Regions from separate parts of the Homo sapiens genome. Here region 2 is linked to region 1. Evidence: fine-mapped expression QTL. A gene starts in region 1. The other region holds a variant in brackets. All regions are shown on one strand. Distances are from middle to middle. Region 1 holds the start of IFNG-AS1 (IFNG regulatory antisense RNA 1). Region 2 overlaps IFNG-AS1 (IFNG regulatory antisense RNA 1).

Region 1 (5,503 bases):
TGTTTGGTCAGTGTTTCCCATGGGATAATAGATAAGAGGACAGCTTGATTACCCTATTTTTTTTTTTTTTTTTTTTTTTTTTGGCCTCTGAGGTCCACCTTTAGGAACACCTTTAATCATAAATTCTTAACACTTTACCTCCTCCAGGTAGAATAGTAAAATTTCTCCTCTTGTTCTTGAGACCTTTTCCAGGCTTTCCTTATAACATTCATCATGTACTAATCAATTTGCTTATTCATGCTTTCCTTTGTAATTCAACTGAAGTCCAGAATTTTCTTTTGTCTTTGTATCTCCAATGCCTAATATACTGACTGACACATGTCGGGGAGGGACTTAGTGGGAGATGACTGGATCATGGGGGCGGTTTCCCCATGCTGTTCTCCTGATAGTGAGTGAGTTCTCACAAGATCTAATGGTTTTATAAGGGACTCTTCCCCCTTCACTCTCTCTCTCTCTTTCCTGCTGCCTTGTGAAGAAGGTGCTTGCTTCCCCTTCTCCTTCCACCATGATTGTAGATTTACTGAGTCCTCCCCAGCCATGTGGAACTGTGAGTCAATTAAACCTCTTTCCTTTTAAATTACCCAGTCTTGGGTGTTTATAGCAGTGGGAAAACAGACTAATGTATCAACATATGCAAATAGAATTTGCATATGTTGGAGACAGAAAATCTCTCTCTCTCTCTCTCTCTCTTTCCCTCTTTCTCTTTCTCTCCTATTAATTCAATTAATTTTCTCAAGAACCAAGTGAGGAACGTGCTCCTATTGCCCACATTTTGCAAAAAACACTGAGATTTAACAAAACGAAGTATCTTGCCCCAAGTCACCCATCTAAGAAGTGGAAGAGCCAGTCAAGGCCTTGGTCTGCCCGTGCCTGCCAGTGCTCTTGATAACACAATATGGAAAGTGCCCTTTAACAATGATTGGCAGTCAGTTAATTACTTTAGGATTTCATTCTAACCTTAGAAAATCTTCCCTCTCCTTTTCCAATAACGGATATAAAATAGAGGAACCTCATTTGTGTTGAGGACAGGAACCCGACACTTCTATCTGTGTCAATAGTCTCTGGCTCAGTGACTACCATATATGGGTGCTCAGTAAATCCGTAGGAGCCCAATACAGGACATGTTCAATCTTTATGCTAGAGGTGTCTTGGGCACAGAGGGCCAGGATGACCTTTCCAAGATCAAACCCATGCCTCTTGGCTCAAACCCTAATCCATCTCTAGAACCTGGGGATGTATATTATATAATGTTCTATAAACTTTATATAATTTGTCCTCATGATACTTGCTTGGGTAAGTATGAGAATTATTTCCATTCACATGAAAAAAAGGTGGTCTTGGAGAAATGCTAAATGACTTGCCCAAGTTCACATAGCTAGTAAGTGGCAGAGCTAAACTTTAGACCCAGGTTTCTTTCTCCCCAGCCCCTCTGCATTTTCTCCAGCGTAGTCTACCAACAAATCAGCACTGTTTACTTGGAGATTTTCAAACTGGCTGCAACGTGACCTGTTGAGGCCACACACATATAAAAGAGGGAGGGAGCTGTATTCTTTACTCTGTGCCAGATTTTGCTCAGATATGAAAATAAAGCTACTGAAAACTGTAGAACAGAAGCTGTTGACACTTTTTCCTCAAAGACTGGTAATAGGTCTTCAAGAATCCAGACACATGTTGCAGTCCAGTTTATCTACAGCCAAGAGTGTATTTACAGGATAGCAATTAGCTGTGGTCTCTCCAGTCAAGGAACAGGATTAACCTAATTAGCCACTAATGTCACCAAATGCATGACCTGAAAAGGCAGGCAGGGGCTGCCCAAGCTGGAATAGCCAGCCACCAACAGTAGTTTAGAGTACCTCATACAGAGGAGGAGACTTATTTCAGTAGCATTTCAATTAAACACATCACTAAATCATACAGACACATGCAAATATAAAAATGCAAATTTGAAATACAACACTTTCTTGTAGGTGATTTTGGGACTGAAACAGGGGACTGAAACTTCACACAACCACTGTTTTGTCTCCGGTGGATTCCTAGGGAGTATCTCAGTGCCTTGCACTCAATACTGTTTACTGAGTAAAGGAATCAATGAGTACAAACATGATCTTATGAAAGCAAAATCACTTATAAAGCTACATACATCTCTAATTCTCATTTGGTTTTAACTTCCCCATTGCAATTAAAAGTCTACCTTCATTTCCACGCATATCAACCAATATCCCCCAAAAAGAAAGTTGCATGAAAAAAGTTGCATGAAAAAAACAGAAAAGTTGCATTAAAAAAACAGAATTCCCACCGTGTCCCAGATTTTCCAAATAATCCTGCCATTCGGAAGCCTGTTCATAGCCCCAAAGTACTGAAAGGCCTTGCAAAATGCTCATAGGTGGAACAGCAGGAAGCATCTAGAGCCATCTCAGAGGGAGCCTTCTGCTTCCAGAAATAAATTCACACATTCACAGGTGCTTCCTGTTTTTTCAAACACCTTGCCCACCTTCTGCACACCAAGCGTGGATTCTGCAAAACGTGAGCCCAACAGGAAGCTGCCTGCAATTTCAGGTAGCTTTTCTGACTCTTAAAGAGATCTCAAGTATACCTTCAGAGAAATGCCAGCAAAAACTGTAGTCATTTGGGAAGGAATAAGCCTGGAAGAAAAAGATACAACGAACTAGCACAACGAGGGTGAGAACATTTTTCATGAAAATGCTGTTTGTAAATTACATTTTTAAACAAATAAATGTGTTTTCTTTAGGTTTTTAGCTCCTGTGGGTGGAATTAGGAGAACCAACTGTAAGTGGGTGGTGTTTGTCATATCTCTGCTGTGAGGGAGGAAGAAGAAGGAGGAAGGCTGGGGTGGAGAGGAGGAAGGAGACCCGCATGGCTGGAATGTCTCCACTGAGCTCAGGGGGATGAATTCCTCTGAGACTTCTTCTATTTCAGGAAGCTCACAAACCCTTCCTGAGATCTCAGAATAACCTTGAAATGAACATGTAGAACATTGATTAAGTTGTGAGAGTGTTCACAGTAAGCTTTGATTGAACTATTCTAGGGAATTTCTTCTTAACATGGTCACAGGTGGATGAGTTGGGAAGAAAATGCCATGGGCGCCGTACTCAGTTTTAAAATGAATTCAGAGAAGTTGTTCAAGGTGGTGAGTGCCATGTCACATATCATAGGTCTTGGATAATTTAGGGTGATTTTTTAATTGTAATTAAAACTACTAATTGCATAATTACTGCTAACACTACTGGTTCAGTTCCAAGTATGTATTCTTACATTTGCTTTTGTTTTGTTCTGTATTTTCCCAGCCATATTGCCAAATTAAGTTAAATCACGTAAATAATTTTGCTTATTAAATTGACTTCTTAATGTTCTTTTTTTCTGAAATGAAACTAAAAACAATATCTACAAAGTCAAGCTTATTCAACTTAACTGGTAAAAGGGCTGCATGGGAGAATGTTTCTCAGCTGAAATTCAAAGAAATGTCTTTAACCTACAATGGTCAGAACTGGTCCATATAAATCCTCTCTGAGCTCACCTTTGGCAGTGAATTAAGGGAACAAAGTTAAGAGCGATTAGCTTTGTTTTGCTTGTAGTAACAAAAATAGAAACATCTGAACATCTTATATGACCAATAGAAGCTTTCTAATCCTTTTTTAAAGGAAACTTTATACACCTAAGGGTTTGAAATACATTAATACTTTTTTTTTTTTTGAGATGGAGTCTCGCACTGTCGACCGGGCTGGAGTGCAGTGGCGCGATCTCAGCTCACTGCAACCTCCGCCTCCTGACTTCAAGTGATTCTCCTGCCTCAGCCTCCCAATGGCTGGGATTACAGGTGCCTGTCACCATGCCCAGCTAATTTTTTGTATTTTTAGTAGAGATGGGGTTTCCCTATGTTGGCCAAGCTGGTCTCAAACTCCTGACCTCGTGATCCGCCCGCCTCGGCCTCTCAAAGTGCTGGGATTACAGGCATGAGCCACCGCTACATAAATAATTTTTTTTTAACTTTAAACTCTGTTCTACACAAGAAATTATTTATCTTCCACCTGCCCTATGTGGTTTGGTGAAGCACCATGTCACCATGTGCATATGGCTATTAAAGATCCAATATGAACATGCTATAGTTTCAAACAAGTTGCTGTCCAGAAAGAACCTGACATCCTCTCGGGACACACACATATCACAGTAAAATGATACCAGATAATGGCAAAGGAGGGATGGAGTCTAGACTTGGTCCTATTATTTACCAAGTATCTCTAGGTTTCCATTTTCTCATTAGCAAAAAGAGGAAATTGGATTATGTGTTCTGTAAAACTGCTCCTAGCTTTAAAGTGTATTGATTATTAGGTTTTAAGAAGATCTGAAATAAAAGACGGCACATGCTAAGTGGCAGATGAGCTGCTATAATGGTTCTGAAAAGGAAGTGACTGCATAGGGTTGGAGCATCTGGGAAAGCCCCCGTGGGGTTGAGAGGTGTGGCTGGCTCTAGAAAATGGGCAGAACCTAAGAAGGTAGAGATGAGGGGGAGCAGTTCACAGGGCACACTCAGGAGACCAGGGGATGCTCGACTGTGGCTAGATCCAGACAGACCCCCGATGCACATGTGAGTGCTAGAGAAAATCTTGTTTCTTGCCACCTTAATGAATGAGGATAATAAGATCACTTGTGGGAAAGTTTTAGTAGCTAAGACTGCTGATCCAATGGGCAAAGCATCTTCAAAGGAAAGCCCGCAAGATGGGCCATGTTAAACCCAGAACTTTTGCCAAGGCTCTTTGGCTTCTCCGCACCAGGGAGGTCTCAGTCAGTACTTCGTACTGCAACTATGCCCTCACATGACTCCTCTCTTTTAAATAGCTGGAAGTCTCTTAAACAGGTTCAAAAAACAAGACTTCCTAATACAAAACCAAACAAATTCTGCCATCTCTTAGCTCTGTGACCTTGAAAAGTTTGTTTTAAATGAAATAGCTCAAGGATAGAGAAAATTATCTAGAATGAAATAATAAGTGTCCATATGCTTGTCATCCAGCTTTGTTACATGTTATTGCTCTTAGTTATTTTCTCATAGTTATTTCAGATTTTTCACAAGGAAAGAAAGGTTAAAGTTGACTCTAATTATGTACTACCTTTCAAGCCAATTCTCTTCCTCTCTCTCTCTTTCTCTTTCTCTCTGTCTCTGTATCCAGGAGTAAACACATTTTGAATTTGATGTTTATCTTCCCGTGATGTTTCTGTATTTATGCTCCATAGACACCTACAAATAATATTGAGTATTGTTTTGTGTCCCTAGATGTTATATGAATGGTATCATACTTTGCATTTCTTTTAATATCTGGCTTTGGTAATTCACCATTAAATTGTTGAGGTTTATCCATGTTGATACACATTATTTTCACTGCTACATAGTATTCCACTGAATCATTATTCCAAAATTTATCAATCTATTTTCTTGTTAGTGGAATCTTGGGTTGTTTAAAAGATCTTTCTATCTCGAATAATGTTGCAA
Region 2 (5,257 bases), 33 kb after region 1:
AGGGGCCAGTTGGGAAAGTCTTTGAAGGGTCTTCAGAAAATGGACCAAAAGAAAAGAGGAAAAGTCATTCTACTGAGAGGTGTTTGTGTAATCAAAGCAACCGAGGCCTAAGAACTCACAAAAGATTAGAAAAGGGTAAAGGATGCCTGGAAAGCCGGACTAGGAAAAGGCTGTGAAGGGCCCTGAAGGTCACATGTCACATGTTGCCTGCAGCATGCAGAATCAAAACATGATAAATCATGTCTTGAATCATGACATATGAAGCATGACACACGAATCATGACATGTGACATGTTGAATGTCACATGTCACATGCCGTAGGCAGCCATCAAGAGTATTTGAAAGGAAAGTGTATAATCAGGCCTGTGCTTTAGTAAGACAATTTGTATAGTGTTCAGTGTGGATTAAAATGGAGAACACAGGTATCAGTTTGACATCGACAGTACAGGAAACCATTTGGGTTTCTTGTACACCAAAATATTAAAACATACACGCAAACACACCAACACATTAAAATCTTGAGAGAGAGGGCCAAAAGTTCTTTGTCGCTGGACTAAAAGTGGAAATAAATGTTTACAACCTCTAAGGTGGATTAAGCTAAGAATTTGGAGTTGTTGGCAAAACTGCCACATAAAATTTCAGACATGCAAAGAAATGCAATCGTAGACTTATGCACATACTTCCACCAGAGAAGGGAATCTGGGCAGAGTGTTCAAAGCTTAAGAAATTCCTTTGCTCTTCACCAAGAAGAGCCAACAGAGTTTTCGTTGAATCAACTCTTATATTCCCTTAAAAAGAAGTTGATAGTGTTGTGGAAAACTCACCCATTGAAGTGACAACAAAAACAGCAACCCAGTATGAGTTAACTGGTATTATGTTAAAGGGACAAGTAACTGCACTTTTGACACACATCCTCTAAAAGGTAGGGTGGGAGTGTTTCAAAGAACCAAGTCTGAGTAATAGAAAAGCATATACCACTTCCCCATATACACGTTCGAGCATGGGGGAGCAGGAAGCTGGGTAATTGAATGCAGTTGTGCACACTGGCAATTTTCCCGCCACATACCATTTCTTCGGTGTCTCTCCCAAAATTCTCCTCCTAAGTGGCACATCCCTTTATTGATCATCTTTCCCCATACTGATCATCCTCAGCAATCATGTGAGTTATTAGTCTAAGTATTTGTTTTTCTCAAATATGGTCTTTTAACTACTCCCTAAATATTTTATATATACATAGTTTGTTTTCCCAATTTAACTACAAGCATTTAAAAAATGGGAATATTTGTCTATATTTCTGTAATTTTTCATCATGCCTTATATGGTATATAAAGATCAACAGCAATAAAACAACAACAGTAATAATAGCTAAGACCTTTTGAATACTAACTGTATGTTCAGCATTATTTCAACAGCTTTACAGGTATTAACTGATTTAATTATTACAACAACGGCATGAAGTAGATACTACTGTTGTCATCAGTTTATACTTGAGGAAACTGAGTTATGGGATGGTTAATTATCTTTTCCATGGTCACAGAGCCATTAAATGTATGATCTCAGACAGTCTGACACCTGAGCTGTGCTTCAATGTACCTGTTAAGATATTCTTTTTCTTGAATTCAAATTCTGAAAGGAAAACAGAGTTGAAAAATCAGAGGCCCTAGCTAATCAAGTAAAGTTTTGCTTTAAAAACAGCAAAAAACAATCTTCCTAAGGTCTCTGCAACATTTTGTGGCCCATCACAGAACAGGGTCATCTTTGACTTCTACACCAAGGAAAATGTGGCTTTTGGATTCTTGGACAGAATCTACTGCATGGCCTCTATCTTCATATGCCCTTGCTGGGATCCGAAGATAATATGAATAAAGTAGATATAGTGGAAGTGAGTAGAAGAAACATCCTGAACAAAAAACACTTGTTCCACTTGGCCAGCTACCTATATTCTCATCAAGGGAGAGTTGGCCACAGGTAATACCACATCAAAGTGCAAACTCTGGATCAACTTGCACTTTTACTTATTCCTACCTTTGACACACACATAGCATA[A/C]CATGTATAATTCTTATTCTGGGCATAGTTGGTGGTAGGAAGGTTTTTATACATTTGAGATTCTATTTGGTGAGCATATGGTAACAACACAAGAAATGTGCCATCAGACTACTGTTCATCAGCTTACGAAGATGGCTACAACAATTCTTATGATTCTTGTGCACATGTTTCTTTGCCATGCAACTTTGTCACCCCTTCCCATCAAGACATAGAGTCCATTTCTTTTTCCCTTTAATTTGGCCCTGTGACTTGCCTAAAACCAACAGAAGGCTGCAGAAGGGACATCATATGACTTCAGGGTCTCAGCACCAAAAGGCCTTTCAGCTTCTGCTTTCAGGCTGTCATTGCTGTGAGATAGGAAGCCTGGGCCAGCCTCCATGAGAATGAGAGACCACACCTGGTCAACAAGGAGAGCCAACCTTCAGCCATGTGAGTGAGACCATCCAGCCTCAGTTAAGCTGCCAGATGACTGAAGCCAGATAAGTGGCCCCAGGCAAGACCAGCAAAACAGCCAACTGGCTGAGCCCAGCCCAAATTGCTAAGGCATAGCAATTTAGGACAAGATAAATTCTTGTGTTTTAAATCAGGATTTGTTATGGAGAAATGGATAACTGATAAAGCTCCAAATCCTAACTGAGACAAGAAATTCAACACCTTTTATATTACCATGATACAAACATTATTTTCTTAATAGTCATCATTAAAGCTTTGTATGTTTAACTGCCCTTCCACTACTACAACAGCTACTGTGCTGGTGCATTCACATTCATGCATACACATAAAGACACATTCTCCAGTTTCCCAACTAGTTACTCATATACTCTTTTGGGCTTTCATTTCTCAATATTGCTATATTTCCAGCTCAGTCCGTTTAACTAGCTTCATTCCCATATATCCAGCTCTTCCTGTCTATGAAGAGTAGCTTACCATTACTTACTATGTGCCAGGAACTGTTTCTCACTATCACTTTATCAGGCAGATAGTTCTCTATCAATAACTACTGAACAGATGACTTCATCTAGTCAACCATGACATTAGAATCAATCGCAAGATAGAGATAGGAATCAAAGAGAAGAGATAAATATGTTACCCTTATTACTTATTTTTAAAATATTTATATTGGAAAATACGATTGCGACACCTACTAACCCACACAAACACAAGAACATTTGGGCAACCACAGGCCTCCTCCAATGCAGATTGGTGTGTGAAAAACTTACAGCATGGAGGATTAAAAAATGTATATTCTCTGAAGGCAGATATGCCCTTCCAGATACAAGAAAATGAATGAACCATTAATGCTGAGTTCTTTCTCCCAAGCTGACCAATCAGTTGTGACGATTCCTCTCCCCTAGGAATAGTCACTCTTGAGAAGTCACAATTGTAACATCGATGGAGGTTTCCTATAGAAACATAAAGACTGGGGATTATGTGTTTCCCCTATAACAAATTTTGTCCTTATCTTGTGACTTTCCATTATGTTTCCAGCCTCAACATCTTCCCTAAGCCTCAGAATTATATGTACACCTGTCTATTCAGTCTCTGCTTGGAAGCCTAATGGGTATTTCGAACTCAATATGTCGAAGAGGATACTCCTCATTTTTTTTTTTAACTATCTCTTCACTCCTCTTTAGTTTGCTAGGGTTGCCATAACAAAATAAGGCTGGGAAACTTAAACAGCAGAATTTTATCCTCTCACAGTTCTAGAGGCTGGAAGTCCAAGATCAAGGAGCCAGCAGTGGTTTCTCCTGGTATCTCTCTCCTTGGATAACTTCTCACTATGTCCTCACATGGCCTTTTCTTTGCACACACATATCTCTGGTGTCTCTTCCTTCTTATAAGGAATCAACCATATTGAATTAGAGACCCACTCTTATGATCTCATTTAACCTTAATTACCTCCTTAAAGGCCCTATCTCCAAATATAGTCACATTAGAGGTTAGGGCTTCAGTACAGGAATTTTAGGGGTAGGGCACAATTCAGTTCCTAACAACCCCTCTCACAATCTTTCCTATTTTAGGAAATGGCACCACCACTGATTAATTGCTTAGGCTAAATTTTAGGAATCATCTAAGATTCCTCTTCCCCTCATACCCCACATCCAATCCATTAGGAAGTTATGTGTGTTTTACCAATTTCATATCCCACCACCTCCACTATGGACTCCAGGTTTTGCCATCTTGTTCTGCCTGCTCTACTGTAATAGTCTCCTAAATGGTTATACTGGTTCCTTTCCTGCCCTGCTACAGTCCATTTCTCACACATCCACCAGAGTCAATCAGATACCATTGAAAGTAAATCAGATACCATTGCTTCCCTAATTTGCAATCTCTAGTGACTTCTCATTATGCTTAGAATAAAACTCAACTCCATTTTACAACCCACATTCATCTACCCTTGCCCACCTCACCATCCTTACTACATATCACTCTTCCCCATCATTCACTCAACTCCAGTCACTTTGGCTGCCTTGACTTTCTTCAAGCATCCAAAGCTCACTTTGGTGTCACAACCATTGCATGTGTTCGTCCTTGTCCATCCACCTGGAACTCTCTGGATGTGTCTCCCCCCTTTTCATTTCACTGATATCTCTGCTCAAATGTAACTTTCTTAATAGAGCTTTCCTAACTCTATTTTAAACACACCTCATGACTTTCAACTCCTTTACCTTCCTTTATTTACTTTCAAAATATTTACAACTGCTTGAAATTACATTGCATTTTTATTTGTTTATTGTCTAGTCTTCTCCACTAGGTTGTAAACTTCCTGAGACTTTTTGTTTCTTGCTGTACCTGTAGCACTGAGAAGGGTCCTTGAAACAAAACAGACCCTCAACACATATGCATTGAATGAAAATAATTTATGCAATCTAAATCATTCTGATTTGGAAATTTGATCATGCCACTTCCCATCTTAAGCTCTCCAATGGCTTCTCATTCCTCTGTGGATAGACTTGAAGCATCCAATATGGTGTACGAGACCTTCCTAATTTTCAGTTTTACCTCTAGCAACTCCCACCATGCAGCTTGAGCTCCAGTCCTCCCTAACCTTTATGAAGACTAGAACTGTGCTGCTTCATCTTGTAATCCCTGGAGTCTAGCACAATACCTGACACAAAATGGTTACAAAGCAGCTGGCATTAAGTGGCAGGAATTATGCTATAAAACAGAGAGTGTATAGAGTCTTGATTTTACATTTCACTAGCTGGTT

Evidence for each region. PIP is the estimated chance that this variant, and not a neighbour inherited with it, causes the effect.
Region 2: its variant is fine-mapped to the expression of IFNG-AS1 in whole blood (INTERVAL, PIP above 0.99).

Annotation. Positions count from the first base shown.
Region 1 is chr12:67,986,901-67,992,403 of GRCh38, forward strand. It overlaps IFNG-AS1 (IFNG regulatory antisense RNA 1), which reads left to right and starts at 2,547. Exons shown (of 4, transcript NR_104125.3): 1 at 2,547-2,679.
Region 2 is chr12:68,019,950-68,025,206 of GRCh38, forward strand. IFNG-AS1 (IFNG regulatory antisense RNA 1) reads left to right here. Exons shown (of 4, transcript NR_104125.3): 4 at 1-1,364. Among named protein-coding and RNA genes, the nearest start is that of IFNG-AS1, 33 kb to the left of the region's middle. The variant A/C (reference allele first, on the strand shown) is at 2,047.